Linked DNA regions of Homo sapiens: region 2 is linked to region 1. The links come from fine-mapping of genetic effects on gene expression. Tissue or cell type: minor salivary gland. Region 1 holds a variant in brackets; the other region holds the start of a gene. All regions are shown on one strand. Distances are from middle to middle.

Region 1 (8,269 bases):
CCTAAAAATCTTCTGTGCTCCACTTATTCAGTGAGACTATTCATCTCTCCCTCCTCCCTACCCCTGGCAACCACTGATCTTTTCACTTTCTCCGTAGTTTTGCCTTTTCCAGGATGTCATAGTTGGAATCATACAGTATGCAGCCTTTTCAGATTGGCATCTTTCACTTAGTAATAAGTAAGTGAACCTTCATGTAAGGTTGCTTCATGTCTTTTCATGGCTTCATAGCTCCTTTCTTTTTAGGACTGAATGGTATTCCATTTTCTATGTGCACCATAGTTTATTCATCCATTCACCTACTGAAAAACATCTTGGTTGCTTCAAAGTTTTTGCCTGGATGAATAAAGCTGCTATAAATATCCATGTGCAGGTTTTCATGTGGATGTCAGTTTCAGCTCATTTGGGTAAATATCAAGGAGTGTGATTACCAGATTTCTCTCCACTGTTTGAGACCCGGTGACCAGCAGCCTTGCCTGCTAGGGAGGAGGGTGTAGGAGAAATAGGAAGCCAAGGATGGTTAAGACTTTGTGGGCAGGTAGCATGGCTGTGTCCCGGGAAGTGTCTCAGCCCTGATTTGGTCATTCATGTTCACTTTCCCACTAGGCTGTGAGTGTGAAAGTGCTTTAAGCCAGAGAGAGCCAGTTGGGAATTCTGGTTCTGCCACTTACTATCTGCAACTGTGAGACACATTGGTTCATCAAATCTGAGATGCCACCTGTTGTAATGGGCGCCTGTTTTATATGCCACTAAGAAGGAAAAATCTCTGCTGGGTAGGTGGCAAATTATATCAAGTGCCAGGTGCTTCCTGATTTCACAGACATATAAATGTGTGTCACAGAATCAATGAAACATGGTAATAGATGTGAAGAACTCAGAATAGCACCTGGCACATAATAGGCCCTTTCGACCTGAATGACCTTAAGGTAGCCTCACAACCTCTCTAAAGGCATTTCCCCAACTGCGACATGGGAACAACATCTACACTGCAGGACTGTCATGCAAACAAAATGCAACAAAGCTAAAAGGGCTCTGGGGCACAATCCTGGCCCATGGAAACATCAGCAATGTGGGTCTGTTCCCCCTTCTCTGAGGGCTGAGCCCCTGTCACATTGATCTCTAAACTCAGTGCTTGGCACACAGCCTGGCTGGAGGAAATGAAAAATCAATGTTTGCAGAATGTAGTAGAGAGCCATTCCTGAGCATTACAATGCATTGGTTCTCCAAGGGGAAATGTTGGGGACCCAAAGAACACCAGAGCAACTGAAAGAAGCCTTTGGATCATCACAAAGCCAGGGTTTGGCTGGGAAGTCATAGTCTCAGGGTGAAACACATGGTCAGTGCCAGAGCTGGGATCACAGCTTGCGTTTCCTTATGTGTCTTCCCACATCCTTTTCACCATCCTGCCCGCCCCACTACTCTTGGGGGCTATTTCCCCTGCTGGGACCTGAGCATCCTCACTTGATAAGATACTGGAGTGGTCAGTGGGTCTTATCAAAATCATTAGGAACACCAGATTCCACGGCCAATCCAGACCTACTGAAAGAGAATCTTGGTGGCAAGAGTGAGGGATCTCTATTTTTCCAAGTGTCCCAAATAATTCAGAACAATTGGTTTGTGGGCTGTGGACTGGCATTTAGATTAGAGGGTCAATCAGCAAGGTTCCTTCTAGCTCCAACCCTCAGTAATCCAAGGCCAGAGAAGAAATCAGGGTCATCTCTTTTTAAAGCCAGAATCCACTGGTGTCATGTGGGGTAGGGGTGGACATTGTACTGGAACCCAGTGACAAGTGGGTGACACAATGCAGGAAAATGCCCATGTGAACTGCCAGAGAAAATAACAAACCTACTCAAGCCCTGCTACTAATAAGCGCGGCACTCCTGGACTTTTGTTTTTCCTTTATCTTGTATTTGGCCAAGTGGGCTGGAAGGAGCCTCCTTTTAATGACTGTGACTTGGCAAAGACTTTCATAGGTCCCGAAGGAGATGGCAGAATTGACATCTGTGCCCCATGAGAAAGGAGAGAACTCAGAACTGGCCACATGCCTGGGCCAAGAAAACCCCAGAAAATTCTGCAGAGGAACCGAGGAAGCCACCAGGAAGCGACCCCAACCCCAGGAATGATGCTAAAGACTACAGCGAGAGCACCAGGGATGCCTCCTCTCGATATTGGATGTATTTGCTGCGGATCCTTCATCCCTGGCCAGGTGACCGTTCTCCCCACACAGACTGCAAATACAAACTCATTCAGGCTGTCCCCAAACAGGCTGAGGCTATGCAAGACAACAGAGAGATCCTGGAGAAGAAAAACATGGAGAAGAGCTGGAATTCAGAGGCTGGGTCTGACACCAAGAAACTCCCCGGGAGCAGTAAGGACAGGCTAACCTGCAGCCAGCAGCACCAAGAGGGACCCGGCCGCTGCGCGGGGCCTTGGCCCTGGGTTGGCTGAGGCCAGGCTGTCAGCCCTGGTTTCTCACAGACCTGCCTCACCTCTGGCTGCACCAGGAGGCCTGCAACAGAAGCCACAGTGTGGGGTCAGCAAGTAGGGCAAGAAGTGGCAGGAGGGTGCTGTGAGTCACAGAGCAGGCCAGGCAGAAGTCAGGTGTGGGGTCAAAACAACAGGAAGAGTGTGACTGGGTGTGACTAGGCAGCCAAGGTAGACGGTCGGAGACTCCCTGACTTAGCCTCTCTGTTCTGGCCAGCCTGAACTCACTTTGTGCACCTACTCGTTTAGCCAAGTAAGTGACTGAGAGTCTATCAGACAGCTGTGGATACACCCACAAACAGAGTCCCTGCCCTCATGGAGCTGACATTCTAGGGAGAGTCTAGCAATACAGCTAGTCAACAAAAACAAAACCATAATTATAGCCAAGCGGTGATAAGAGCATAGATGGGAACAGAAGCACAGGGAGTACAGAGTGAGGCAGGCACTATTGTGGGCAAGTGAACAAAGGAGTGGAGAGTGAGGGCAGGCGCCATCTTGGACAAGTGGAGGAGGGAGGAAATGAGAGACAGGGCAGGCACCATCTTGGCCGGGTGGACAAGGAAGGAAATGAGAGAGAGGGCAGACACCATCTTGGCCGAGTGGACAAGGAAGGAAATGAGAGAGAGGGCAGGCACCATCTTGGACAGGTGGACAAGGGAGGGAATGAGAGGGCAGGTACTGTCTTGGACAAGTGAACAAGGAAGAGGGTGGGGAGTGAGAGCAGGTGCCATTTTGGACGAGTAGAGAAGGAAGGCCTTGAGTGGAGACCTGAATGAGCTGAGGAAGGACGTGGACTCCCCCACCTCAGAAAACTCCTTTCTGTACTCTGGCCTAAGCTTTCCTTGTCTTTTAGATCTCAGCTTAGATGCCTCTTCTCCTTCCCTGGTCCCCACACCCAACAGGGCCCCTTCTAGGTACATGCTTATAGCTTTGTGTCATAATTGCTATTGCTATTTACTCTCTTAGGACACTGTGAGCCTTCTGAGGATCACGTGACCTGGTACAGGGCCCGGTGCACTGAGATACCCAGCCTGTGCAAAGGGAAGGCATGCATGAATGGAGGGACTCATTAATATGGACCCAGATGGGCAGGTGCTGGCTGGAGGGCATGGCTCCCCAGAGTCCAGGGCTTTGGTGGCAACCTGAATGGAGAATCCAACATCAGGGCCCCAAATCTCCAGCATCCTCTTTATTACATCACAACACTTCTAATCACATACTTGCTGCCTTCTCTACTTGAGATGACTCTGGATTCTGGACCCAGAGCTCAGGCTGTTACAATGACCGTACATCTCAAGTGAGAGAATGGGGACATGGCTGTCAGATGATCATGGTGGGTGCAATGGGAAGTCTGGAAAATGTCATTTGGATGCTGAAATACTGAAATTCCCAAGAGGTTTCAATGTATATAGAAGTGATAGAAGAATATTTGGAAACAAGACACCTTCAAAAAATTGAAAACATATGATAACCATAATCACGGGATGCAAAGCATCAATTTCAAGGATGTCTCTGGCCCATGGCCCATGCTTACCATGCAT[T/C]GAGCAAAGTCATGGCCTGCAGGGCTCCTATGGTCTCCCCAGTAGGGACCACATTGATCTCAGGAACTGAAAAGTGCCCTCAAGGGAGAAAAAGAACTAGAGAGCACCTGGGCGAGGCTGCACAAGGCACCACTCCACCCAGACCCCAGTGTCGGTTCATTAAGCATGGAGGCCTGTTCCTCACCACCTGTCCCCAGATCCCCTAGACTCAGGGCTTCCCCCCATGGTGGAGGGCCGCCTGCCCACAGGGTCAACAGATGCTGCCTGCCCCAGCAGGGTCAACACAAATCTGAAAGCCACACCTTCTCCCCTGGACTCACCCAAATCAGAGGCCACATTTTGTTGTAGCTCCACTTCACAGAGCATGGCCCTAAGCTGTGGATTTTGCATCCTTTTCTCCCCACCCAACAAAATCTCAGCTCTGTTACCACCTCTCTGGGAAACCACAGGCTGAGGTCTGACTTGCTTATGATGTAGGCTGCCCTGATTCAGGAACTCAGAGTCTAAATTCAGAAACTTGTGTCTCTGGCCTCCTTTACCCCTGAAGAGGTATAGGGGAGGCAGGCAGGCAGGAGCCTTTCCCAGAGCTGAGCAATGAGGCCACCTCCAGCAACACACTTGGGGAATCACCAACGCCCTCCAACAGTGACTACCCTCTAGCCTGAGAAGGACGTCATCATTTAAGAGGTTTGGGTTTCTGTGGGCAGAGGGTTTAAATGCTGCTTTTTCCCGGCAGTTTCTGCCCCAGGTCAAAGCTTTCCCACCAAGCCACCAACCACCACTGGGAAATGCTCTTGCCCCACAATGTGTCAGCCCCGACTTAATCAGAAGTGGTGACTGAGAGGCAGCCTCAGCCTGGTCCGTGACTTCCCCAAGACTCTTCCTGTCAGTCCAGGGAGTTTTTTCCTCAGATGCCCCCCAGGAGGGTCCCTGCAGGGGGAACGGGGCTACTGGAGTCAGGGAGATGCCTCTCTCTGCACGTGGCAGTGGAGGAAAATGGGAGACAGGGATTCTTGATTGTGTGAAATTCAGAGACTCCTAGGCTCCAAAGCAAGAGCAGATGCTCCAGGTAGAGGGCAAAGGGCAAGAGAGCTGGTGATGAGCAATGGGACCCCAGGCTTTCGAGGTTGCAGCCACGTCCCCTAGTAACTGCCCTTCAATGACTGCGAGGCACCTTCACCTCCTCCTTGGCATCATACCACATTGAGCCCTGGAAAACCCTTCCTGAGCAAATGAGGATCAGCAACCCGGAAGAAAACCCTGCCCCATACCACTCCCGTGTGGGTATCTGATTTGCACCCCTCAGGTGAGGGCGTTAGGTGCAGAGACTATCACACTTTTCCTCTTGTTCTGGATCCCTAACCTGCAGACTGGGGTCTACCTGTCCATGCCTTCATGGTTTGCAAGTTAAGAGGATGGTACTGGCTACAAGGCTGGTCCCTACCAGCTCTGTGCAGGAATGGCACCGGCACATAGCATCACTTGGCTGGAAAACCCAAGCTGAAGGGAAACACCAAGAGCTATTCCTTACTAAAAACAAGGAGAGGCTGTTCTTGACAGCTTATTCCAATCCCCATCCCACAAGGCTTTGGCAGAGCTTTTTCTTGTAATGCCCACCCCTGCCCCCCATAGCAGAGACACCCAGATATCCACAGGGCTCATCTCTGTTCATCTTTTCCCTGCTTCCCCAGAACTGGGGACCACAAGCCCGAGATGGAGCAGGGACTTAGGGGCTGCTAGGCCCCCAAACATGGAAATAAAAGAAAATCTTGAGTATCTTCAAGGGAAATTCTAGGCTAGCCCCAAGAAGTAAATGAGCAACTTGGTAAGAAAGAAAGAAATAGTAGCTTAAAGCAATAGTCAAAGAAGTTAGAGTCAACCTCTGATGACTCTCTATAGAAACTAAAGAGAACATCTTAACATATGTCCCTGAGGTGTTTTTCAGAAACCCAGCTGGATGTTTTTCAGAAACCCAGAACCAAATGGATTTGCTGGCATATAGACCTCAAATGAGGGGAAACTGAGGCCTGAACTCTGATTGACGGACTTTTTTTTTTGAGACAAGGTCTGGCTCTGTCACCCAGGCTGGAGTGCAGTGGCATGATCTCGGCTCACTACAACCTCTGTCCCCCAGGCTCAAGCCATTCTCTCCCGCCTCAGCCTCCCAAGTAGCTGGGACTACAGGGTGCATGCTGCCATGCCCAGCTAATGATTGTGTTTATTCTTTATTCTCCAGTGCCACAGAATAAAGGAAAATTCCAGGCACCTAGCTAGCTCTGAGGACCTGGAAGAAGTCACATCCACAGGCCAGACCTTAATATTCCTTTCTGCTGAACCCAAGTTTTTAGACAAAGTTTCCCTTCCTTAACCAATTGCAAATCAGAAAGTCTTTGAAGCCATGTATGACCTGTAAGCCCTTGCTTCCAGATTTCCCACCTTTTTAGGCCAAACCAATGTATAACATCCATGTCTTGATTTAGAAATTTGCCTGTAACTTCTGCTCTCCTGAAATTTACCATTGCCTTTAAACAGCCTTGCTTGTAAGCCATCCAGGAGGTTGAGTCTTAAGTGTGAGCTACCAGATTTTCTTTGCTTGGTGCCTTGCAAATAAACACCATGCTTCCTCCCACTGCACAACTTCAGTATGGATGTTTGGCTTTACCATGCCAGGCAAGAAGATCCCACTTCGGTTTGGTTACAAGCCCCATCAACACCCTGTGACCAAGGTTCTTCCCTTTGATACAGAGAAGCAGAAAGAGAAAAGTGCTGTCACCTCAAAGCCCAGACCAGAGCATCCCTGCCTGGTTTCACTGTGTAACCCTAGGAGAGGAAAGTGGTTTGAGGGAACACAGGGCAGGAGACTGGCTCCTGGCTGGGTAGCCTCCTTGCTGTCTCCCAGATCAAGGGGCTCATTGTTTCACCCCACAACTTTTCTGGAGTGTCAATTCCAGCCTCGGCTTGGAGCTCTCTGCCTCACTGCAGCCCCAGACCACAGCACCTGCCTCCCCATTCCTCAACCTGTTGTACTGAGCCTGCCCTTCACCCAGGCCCCACCGGGACCAACCCCATGGTCCTCAGCCACCCTCCTTCTACAGGCCCCAAATCTCTCAAAGCTTGAGCTTGTTCCCCAGTAAAGAGGGTACAGCTGAGGCACAGATGAGGCCAGGTCATGGAGAAGATCAAGGCATGGGTCTGGACAAGGAATCTTAGCATTTTCTCAGGATATCACTAGGAACAACTTCCATTAGCTTAGTTGTCGGCAACAGATGTCCCATTACTTAGTGCTTGGAGTGATTTTTCGGTAATTATGACATCATCTTTGGGCTTTTCCAATAATCACAAATGATGGTGAAGCATAGCATTTGCCAGCTGGTAGAGACTTGAAGATGACACAGTCCACACTCTTTGCATGACACGTGTGGGAGCAGAGGCCCAGAGAGGTGACGTGCCTTACCCAAGTCATCCCGTAGCTAGCAGAAGAGCTGGGGCCTGAACTTGAGACTTAGCCCTCGGGCCAGTTCTCCATCTACACCCTCCTTTCTTTCCCAGAATCCTTTCTTCAGAAGATCCCTGAGCATGGTCCACCAATTTGCATCACGACTTTGATGCAAGATGCCTTTTGATGGAGCAGTTACATGAAAAACAATTACTTTAACCCTGGAACTGCAATGCTTCTAACTAAAATTCATAGAAACAGCTTGGTTTCTCCTGAGTCTTATGGGAGAACCAAGAAGACAGGGTTGCCTTTGTGAAGCACAGCCATTGCTGAGTTTGCATTTGAAAATGAACATGTCAACGATTGCACGCAGGGGAAGGATAAACCAGCCTTGGCTTTTGAGGAAAGTGATAATATTTGTTGAAGTCCGGGGTGATTCTACTTCCCGTGCACAGATATGCAGCACTAAAAATGCATTATCTGTATTAATTCTTTATGTATATTTTATCAATGTCTGTGTTTATTTTTTCAATTGCATATTTATTTATCCATCAATTTGCAGGTATGGAATTACTACCACATTCCAGGATTGTGCTAGGCACTAAGGATGCAAGGATAAATAAGTATTGTCTTTGCCCTGGACTCACTCAAATGAACTAAGAGTTTAAAATAGATAAGAAAGACCACAGAATGTCAAAGCTGGCAGAGAACTCAGGGGCTCCAAAACCCTCAGTTAGAAATGAGGAAACTGAAGTTGACAGAGAAGTCACCAGCCATTACTGGGATGCCAGATCCTTCTCTTTTGAGACCA
Region 2 (8,184 bases), 270 kb before region 1:
CAGCTGTCCCCACAGCAGGCACTGCTGCACTTTTATTCCTGAGGAAATGGGGGGAAATGACCAGACTTGCCATGGACACCTCGAATGAAAGCGAAGGCAGGAGGTGCAGGGAGGGAGGGACTGCAGGACAGCAATGTTGAGTGGAAGAAACAAGAACCCTGGCATCGGAGGAACCAGGCTCTTGTCCAAGCCACATCCTCCCCGACAATCAGCGAGGCACACAGGCTTTCTGCATCCTGGCCTCCTTGTCCAGAGTGGTATCGATCATGTCAGACACTGAAAATACCCCCCTTAGGTCATGCATCCGTCCCTCCCCATGCCACCTCCACAGAGGGACTGCATCCCAGAGACCAGCCACGTCCTCTGCAATGTGCACCTAAACCTTCACCCCAGCAGACGCTCCCCATTCACCACAGCGCTGCAGCCCCCAGGGAGTCTCAGCACCACCTGAACTTGACTTTCAAGAGCCGGAGGCAACAGCAGCCAGCCCTTCACACCGAATCCATCTGCATCCCTAGTGGGAGACTTGGGCCGGGCTGCCTGTGCATTCAGGGGTGGAAGTAGTGGAAGCCAGGAAGGACAATTCCCTTCGGAGAGTAGAGAGGGTTCGCAGTGGCCCGAGGAGCAGGCTTCCCAGAGAAAGTCCCTTTGGAAGGATGAGTCCTCTTGCTCTGCCAGGCCCTCCACACTGCCCATCCCCTCTAAGCCGACAGCAGGCTGCCCTGCCAGTGTTCCTGCCACCACTGGGCTGGCTGCCCTGAGCCACGGGGCACAGGCCATAGCCCCGGTCTTACACAATGGACCCTTTCCCAGAAGCTGAGGCTGTTGCATAAAACAGAAACCCCTCCCCCTGCACTCCACCCCCACCATGCCCCTCCCAAGAACTGCTTATCTGAGCTCACCCATTTGCCATCACAGAACCAACAGGACGATGGGGTTCCCCTTCCTGAAATGGTTCACATCCAAAGCCCGCTCAGCCCAGCAGGCCCATCTGGACACTCAGTAGCACATTAACAAGGAGTGCCTCTCATGAGAAGTAATCAGGCGCAAAGAGCCAGGGAGCAGCGTGGGAGAAGAGATGGGGTCAGCGCCTTCCCCAGAGATGGGGTAGGGGGCGGAGACCGGGCTCACCAGGAAGGCTGTGGTCTCACGGGCTCTGCCCCAGCTGCCCACTGAGCCCTGAAATGCCTCCAGCAGGAACAGAGCCTTTGTCATGCCAGAGAGACAAAGCCAGCCAGAAACACCTCTCTGCCAGGGGCCCCTGAAAGCAACAACTTCTGGAAAAACCCATTCAGAACTAGGTTCTGACCAGAAGACAGGGTGCTGGGCCATGAAGAATGGGGCAGCCAAAGGCAAGATACAGGAAAGGAATTCCAGACTCAGCAGCGGGCACAGAGTCTGCTCCAGGGAGCCTGGGGTCCCTGGTGAACCATCCAGCTCAGACCTGGGAAGGAGGTCGTTCTCTCACCCAACCTCTCTACCCTAGCGGTGAGGCTGAAGCCCAGAGAGGGCATGGGACTCCCTAGAGTCCACAGCATGCTCATGGTAACCCTGGGATGAGAGCCCAGCCCTCCCGACCCCTAGTCCAGTATTCTTTCCTTGATTCCAAGTCACTTAAATATCTGAGCCTCAGTTTCTTCATCTGTAAAATGGATCTAATCCAGACCTCAGAGAGGGGAATGTGTTCTGTAAACACGAGGGTCTTATGTAATCATAGTAAATTCTGACTACTTCCAAATTAGACTGAGGTCTGAGGCTGGGCATTGGCAGTGTCTAATCAACATGTCTGGAGAGGGGCAGGAAAACCGAGACAAGCACACAGAGGCCACCTGTGGTCCCCCGGACTGTGTGGCTCTGCTTTGCTGAAATGATTGACCACTTTTTAAAGTACTTATGAATCACTGCAGGGCTGGTTATAATGTTGGTTCTGAGACTGCTTTTCCAGCCAGTCTGCAGGTGATATGGATGCTGCTGATCCAAGGAATGTTCTAGAACCGTGACTGCACAGCCGACCTCCTTTCCTTTGCTCGGACTCACCTCCCCCCTCATCTCCTCTGCCTCCTGGGAGCCTGGCTGCCAGCTGCCCTGGGTGGAAGAGCCATGCCAAGGCCAAGGCCCTCGAGTCCCCAGCACTACCACACAGCCTCATTCTCCCTAAGAAGGCTTAAACCACTTGGCCTTGCTCCTTCTACCAGAAAAGGCCGGTTCTGTGGACAAAGGGGCTGCTCAGGGGAAGAGGAGGAGGAGAAGATGGCGGGGGGTGGGGGGCAGGGGGGGCGGGGGGAGCAGGCAGACTTTGGGAGCAACTCCCCTCCAGGCACACCCTCCTGGGAACTTTGAACTGAGCAGCTTCCCAAAACGTTTCCAAGCAGGGCAGGGCTGGAGGCTTAAGAAAATCAATGACCTGGCAGGGCGCATTGATTCACACCTGTCACCCCAGCACTTTGGGAGGCCAAGACAGGCGGATTACTTGAGATCAGGAGTTCGAGACCAGCCTGGCCAAGGTGGTGAAACCATGTCTCTACTAAAAATACAAAAATTAGCCGGATGTAGCAGCATGCGCCTGTAGTCCCAGCTACTCAGAGGCTGAGGCATGAGAACTGCTTGAACCCGGATGGCGGAGGTTGCAGTGAGCCGAGATGGCGCTACTCTACTCCAGCCTGGGCAACAGAGTGAGACTTGGTCTCAGGAAAAAAAAAAAAAAAGAGAGAAAAGAAAGAAAGAAAATCAATGACTGTGAACAGGGAGCCGTGGGGAGGATGGGAAGACAGTGAAGAGGGCACACAGATGGTGAGGGTTTCAATCCCAAAGCCCCGGCTCCTATCTGCTTCTTCAAATGGAGAAAACTAAACCAAAAGGAAAATAAGAAAAATAATCACCGGTAATTCATATCACCCAGAGGCAAAGGTTAGCACTGTGGTATATTTCCTTCTGTCTTCCATGCAGTTTATACAAGATTCTTCACATTCACCATCTTCAAATATTCTTTAAGGGCATACTTTTATGGCTATGTAATACTCCACTTACTCACGGACCTAAGTTTATTTTACCATTCTCACAAGATTGGCCATTTCAGTTGTGCCCAATGCTCCACTATTATTATAACTTAACATTTTCATGGGCATCTTTTTTTATATAGTATCTGTACTTTCCTTTAAATTCCTAACCTCTCCGTTTAAAAAATAATAATAAAAATCATATTTTTTTTAACTAGGTCCAGAAATTCTGGAAGGTCAAGAGGCTTTGGCTCGAATCCCAATTCTGATACTTATTTGCTGTTTAGTGTTGGCACCAGTCCTAAACCTCTCCAGGCCTCAGATTATCATCTGTAAAATGAGACTGTGGAATCAGAGGTCTGAGGCCTGGTGGATCTTGTGTGACTTTTCTCTGATGCACCTCAGATGCATTAGGAGGCAGAAAAAGTCGGATTTCGGTGGTTGCAGCATATACTGAAATCCGCAGCCTCATACTTACAGGCAACAGTGTCCAGAGAGCTAGAGAATTTAGAAGAAAACTAGATGACTCATGCATGCAAGCCGAAAGCCACAACTGAGAGATCCGCATCTTCGCAGAGGATATGCTGCAGGAAGGAGCTCGGTGCAGGCCAGCTCTGTCACCTGCTAGCCTGGGTCTCCCGCAACGCGGCAGGTCTCCAGGTCTCAGTTTCCCCATCTTTGCGAAAGGATGATCATTATATCTGTTCTATTTACCCCCCCACCACAGAATTGTGGTTGGAGCTCGTGCTCTCAGGCGGCGGTTGCGCCGGGGCCCCTGGCTCAGCTGCCTGGTGATGGGGCTCCGGCCACCTCCCCTCCCTGGCTTCCTGGGCTCCGTCGAAAGCGCAGGGGTTGTGACTGCGAGCTGTGTCATCCCTCTCTGCCTGGCTGCCATCCCCTGCCCGCCCATCCGTCCTGGTGTGGCTCTGCTCAAGGGTAGGGAAGACGGGGACATCTCACCGGTCAGCGGCACCCTGTGCCCGCGCGCTCCTCCTGGCGACGCCGCGTTGTGGGCACTGGGAGGCGCCGTATTTATAGCGCTCTGCTCGCGCACACACCCCCTTTGGGGCTGGCTGCAAACCTGCATGACTCACGCCCAAAGAATGCCGCGGAAAGCAAGGGGAGCTTTCTGGAAGCCGGGAGGTGGGGGCCGGTGCAGCACCGGGCTGGGGGCGCCGGGGGGCGCATCATCACCACGAATAGCTGTGCTGGCTCCAGGAGAGACCCTGAGGTGCGGCCGCTCGGCGCTTCCAGTAGGGAAGAGCCTGAACTCGCGTGCCCATCTGGGAGCCCCTCTCACGCGGTTAGCCCGGCTGTCTGTCCCAGTCCAAGACACAATCTCACAGTTCCCTGGCCCTACTGACCTTAACCTTCACATTACACAAGCGCCACTTCTCTTGACCCATTTAAATAGTAAAGAGTCAGACATAATGAGGGTGGGATGGAGAGGGGCCTTGTGCTGGAGAAGAGAGCACAGGAAGTATTGAAACGCCTACTCCTGGAAACATCACACTGATGGGGGTCCCTGGACTGACCCGCCAGGCCTGGAGGAAACAGAATTGTGTTTAGGAGTGATCAGAGCAGATATGTGGAGAGCCAGAAGGCCTCTCCGGGGTCCTTGATCCACAGAGCTTAAGCAATCACTGTCCCCATCTTTTTGGAACCCAACCAAGCAGGGTGGGCTTCATGGCTGTGGGACCCTTGCAGATCCACGTTTGGTTTAATGGGCTACTGTGACGGTCTTGAAATTCTTCATAGTTTTTGAACCAGTGGACCTGAATTTTTATTTTGCCCTGAGCCTTCCCAGTTAGGAAATCAGATCTGTGTCCAGAGGGGTTTGCTGGTCTCCAACTGCTGGAGTTCCTTCTGCTGAGAGCAGGGAGAATCTCCTGTCGCAGCCACCCCTCCCCCTGGCAAGGAGGGGCAAATCTAGGAACCCTGGAGGTGCAGCTACTTCTTGGGGAAGAAAGTGAGCTGCCCATTTTGGAGCCAGGGATGTTTAAGCCCCAGGAGAGAAGTCAAGGGGCTGACAGCTGGGGCAATGGGTGGACAGGGCGGGTACAGGCAGCCCCACTGTGGGTGGCAGACTTTGAAAACCATGTGAAACAAAGGGGCTTAAAGGAGAGCTGCGTGGTCAGGGGCTGAGTTTTCCAGTTCAGGATCAGGACTATGGAGGCACAACATGGAGGCCCAGTCCCTTGCTTGCCCAACGTCCAGGGGCCACTAGGACCCCAGTCCTTTTCAGGAGGCAGCCTCGGGGAATCTTCAAGGCCCATGACTAAGTGGGAGAACCCAGACCAGGTCCATGAAAGTCTGATTACAGTCCTAGGTGTGCCCCTAGACACTGGGTGACCTCGGACTAATCACTTTGCCCTTGGGCCTCAGTTTCTTCCATCTGGACGATGAGGAATCGGGAATGGATCATCTCCACGGCTCCCTGCAACCTAACCTAGAGCCAAGCCAAGTATTAGAAGGCCATTAACCCAGAAGAAGAAAAAAATGTCCCAGAAGAGGCTACACTTTATTTTTCTTAAAAAAAAAATGTCTAATTATCAGTAACAGCTACATTTTCTGTGGACAGTGCCTGCTCCTTATCAGTGCCTGCTCCTTATCAATACCTGAGGTTAGAAGAATTGTTTTTGAGCTCGCTCCTTGTAACTTTTCTGTTCTGTAGCTCCCTCAGCATCCGGAACAGAAGGCATAAATCTAGTTATATTTTTAAAAATTAGACTTTGGAGGTCAGTCAGTGAGATCCGCCTTAGCCAGCTGAATTAGGGGAAGGGAAGAGAGGAAGAAAGGACTTGGGAGAAAATAGCATGATTCACAGATTCACAGTCATGACTGTGATCCCTTGGGAATAATTACTTGATTATTCCCACTACTAAGCAAACAAGGTTCAGAAGGTCAAACTTTGAGGAAAGAAAAGTGTAAATTTTGAAAGCGCCATAAATGCATCACCAGATGTTTCATATTCTAAGCAGATCATAGACATTGATTGGTTCAGGACTCACACACTGCTTGATTCCTACCCCATCCCCAGCATCTGCACCCGGTGGTCATCCTGCCCATGTTTGAATGCCACCAATAACAGGGAGCTCACTACCTGCCATGCAACCATTTGTCTAGTAAAGCTGTTGATAAAGTTAGGGCCTTCTTTGGTTGAGTCACAGTCTGGCTCGTGTATGGGCCAATCCGGAGCCCAGTTCTGCCCTCTGGAGCCACACAGAGAAAATCCAGCCTATCTCTCCCATAGTGCCCCTTCTGATATTTGAAGGCAACGTAGTCTGCTTTTCCCAGTGACCTCCAGGCTTGCAGCTCCTTGCCTTGCCGTGGTTTGCAGACTTTTCCCCAGCCCTTTGACATTCTGGACCTCATCTCTCTTGAAACCCTTGGCCCAGCCCTGGACTAGCCAATGCCAGTGGGGAGCCTTGGACCAGCCAATGCCGGAGGGCCTGAGCACACAAAGCAGAACAGGACCACCCCTTCCCTTGCCCTAAACACTCCAAATAAGCTTTATCAGATGCTGAGTCACTGGGCTGATTCATAGAGAATGCATCATCTTCTTGGCAGGTGCTGCTGTTTGATCCTCTGTCTCCCATTATGGACTTACACAGCTGGGTTTGGGGCATTAGCTTGATTTATTTTCTTGGAGAGTCAGAGCCATGGGGAGGGCCAGGGAGGGATGAGTAAAGACCCTTGCATTTATCTGTTTATCTATGCTTTGTGCACCATCTCTGGCTGCCTGAATGTCTCTGGGGCTGCTTCGCTACGCAGTGTCCTTATTACACATCCCCAACCAGCCTTTGTCTGGCTCAGCACCACAAGCAGGACAGCTCAGCCAGCAGTCTGATACAGCTGGAACAAACTAGGAATGGGCAAGAGCAGTATCCTGTGGCCTGTGATTAAGAATCACTCTCAGATGGGCGTGGTGACTCACACCTGTAATCCTAGCACTTTGGGAGGCTGAGGTGGGAGGATCACTTGAGTCCAGGAGTTCAAGACCAGCCAGGGCAACATAGCAAGACCCAGTTTCTACAAAAATTAAAAAATTAGCCAAGCATGGTAGTGCATGCCCGCAATCTCAGCTACTCAGGAAGCTGAGATGGAGTATCGCTTGAGCCCAGGAGGTCAAGGCTGCAGTGAGCTACGATCGCACCACTGCACTCCAGCCTGGGCAATAAAGTGAGACCCTGTCTCTCAAAAATAAAAATGAAAAAAATAAGAGAATCACTCTCCAAGGGGAGCAGGGAGGGAGGATGGTGAGAGATTGGTCAACCAGTACACAGTTAAAGTCAGATGGGAGGGATAAGTTCTGGTATTCTATCGCATAGTAGAGTTTAACTTTTTTTTTAGGTCCCAGTATCTATTGCTCCCCTCTATGTGTCCATGTGTTCTCATCATTCAGCTCCCACTTATAAGTGAAAACATGCAGAATTTTGTTTTCTGTTCCTGTGTTACTTCACTTAGAATAATAGCCTCCAGCTCCATCCATGTTCCTGCAAAAGACATGATCTCGTTCTTTTTTATGGCTGCATAGTATTCCATGGTGTATACCGTAGTATTCCATGGTGTATATATACCATATTTTCCTTATCCAGTCTGCCACTGATGGGCATTTAGGTTGATTCCATGCCTCTGCTATTGAGAATAGTGCTGCAATGAACATATGAGTGCATGTGTCGTTATGGCAGAGCAATTTATATTCCTATATATACCCAGTAATGAGATTGCTGGGTGAAATGTTAATTCTGTTTTTAGCTCTTTCAGGAATCATCACACTGCTTTCCAAAATGGTTGAACTAATTTACACTCCCACCAACAGTGTATATAAGCCTTCCCTTTTATCCACAACCTCACCAGCACCTCTTATTTTTTGAATAATGTATATTTCAACATAGGTAGAAGAGAGAACTTACAATGTTCTCACCACAAAGAAATGTTTGAGATGGATTTGGTAATTACCCTAATTTGATCCTTACACAATGTGTGCACGTATCAAAACATCACATTGTACCCCACAAATATGTACCATTCTCGTGTCAGTTTTAATTTTTTTTAACTTAGTGAAAGGCTGGGTGCAGTGGCTCACGCCTATAATCCCAACACTTCAGGAGGCCGAGGTGGGGAGATCACTAGGTCAAGAGACCATCCTGGCCAACATGGTGAAACCCTGTCTCTACTAAAAATA

Direction of the effects. Alleles are on the strand shown, and positions count from the first base shown. SD is a standard deviation of normalised expression in the study named.
As copies of T replace C in region 1, the expression in minor salivary gland of the gene that starts at base 4,002 in region 2 goes up (large effect, 0.80 SD a copy in GTEx).

What was found. PIP is the estimated chance that this variant, and not a neighbour inherited with it, causes the effect.
Region 2: CLU starts here. The variant in region 1 is fine-mapped to the expression of CLU in minor salivary gland (GTEx, PIP 0.98).

The regions. Positions count from the first base shown.
Region 1 is chr8:27,881,996-27,890,264 of GRCh38, forward strand. All of the region lies in intron 7 of SCARA5 (scavenger receptor class A member 5), which reads right to left. MIR4287 (microRNA 4287) reads right to left here and starts at 4,121; the gene lies at 4,044-4,121. The variant T/C (reference allele first, on the strand shown) is at 4,023.
Region 2 is chr8:27,610,699-27,618,882 of GRCh38, forward strand. It overlaps CLU (clusterin), which reads right to left and starts at 4,002. Exons shown (of 9, transcript NM_001831.4): 1 at 3,957-4,002. MIR6843 (microRNA 6843) reads right to left here and starts at 53; the gene lies at 1-53. RefSeq lists enhancers at 1-451, 3,634-4,133, 5,090-5,590, 5,881-6,637 and silencers at 2,415-2,600, 4,156-4,245.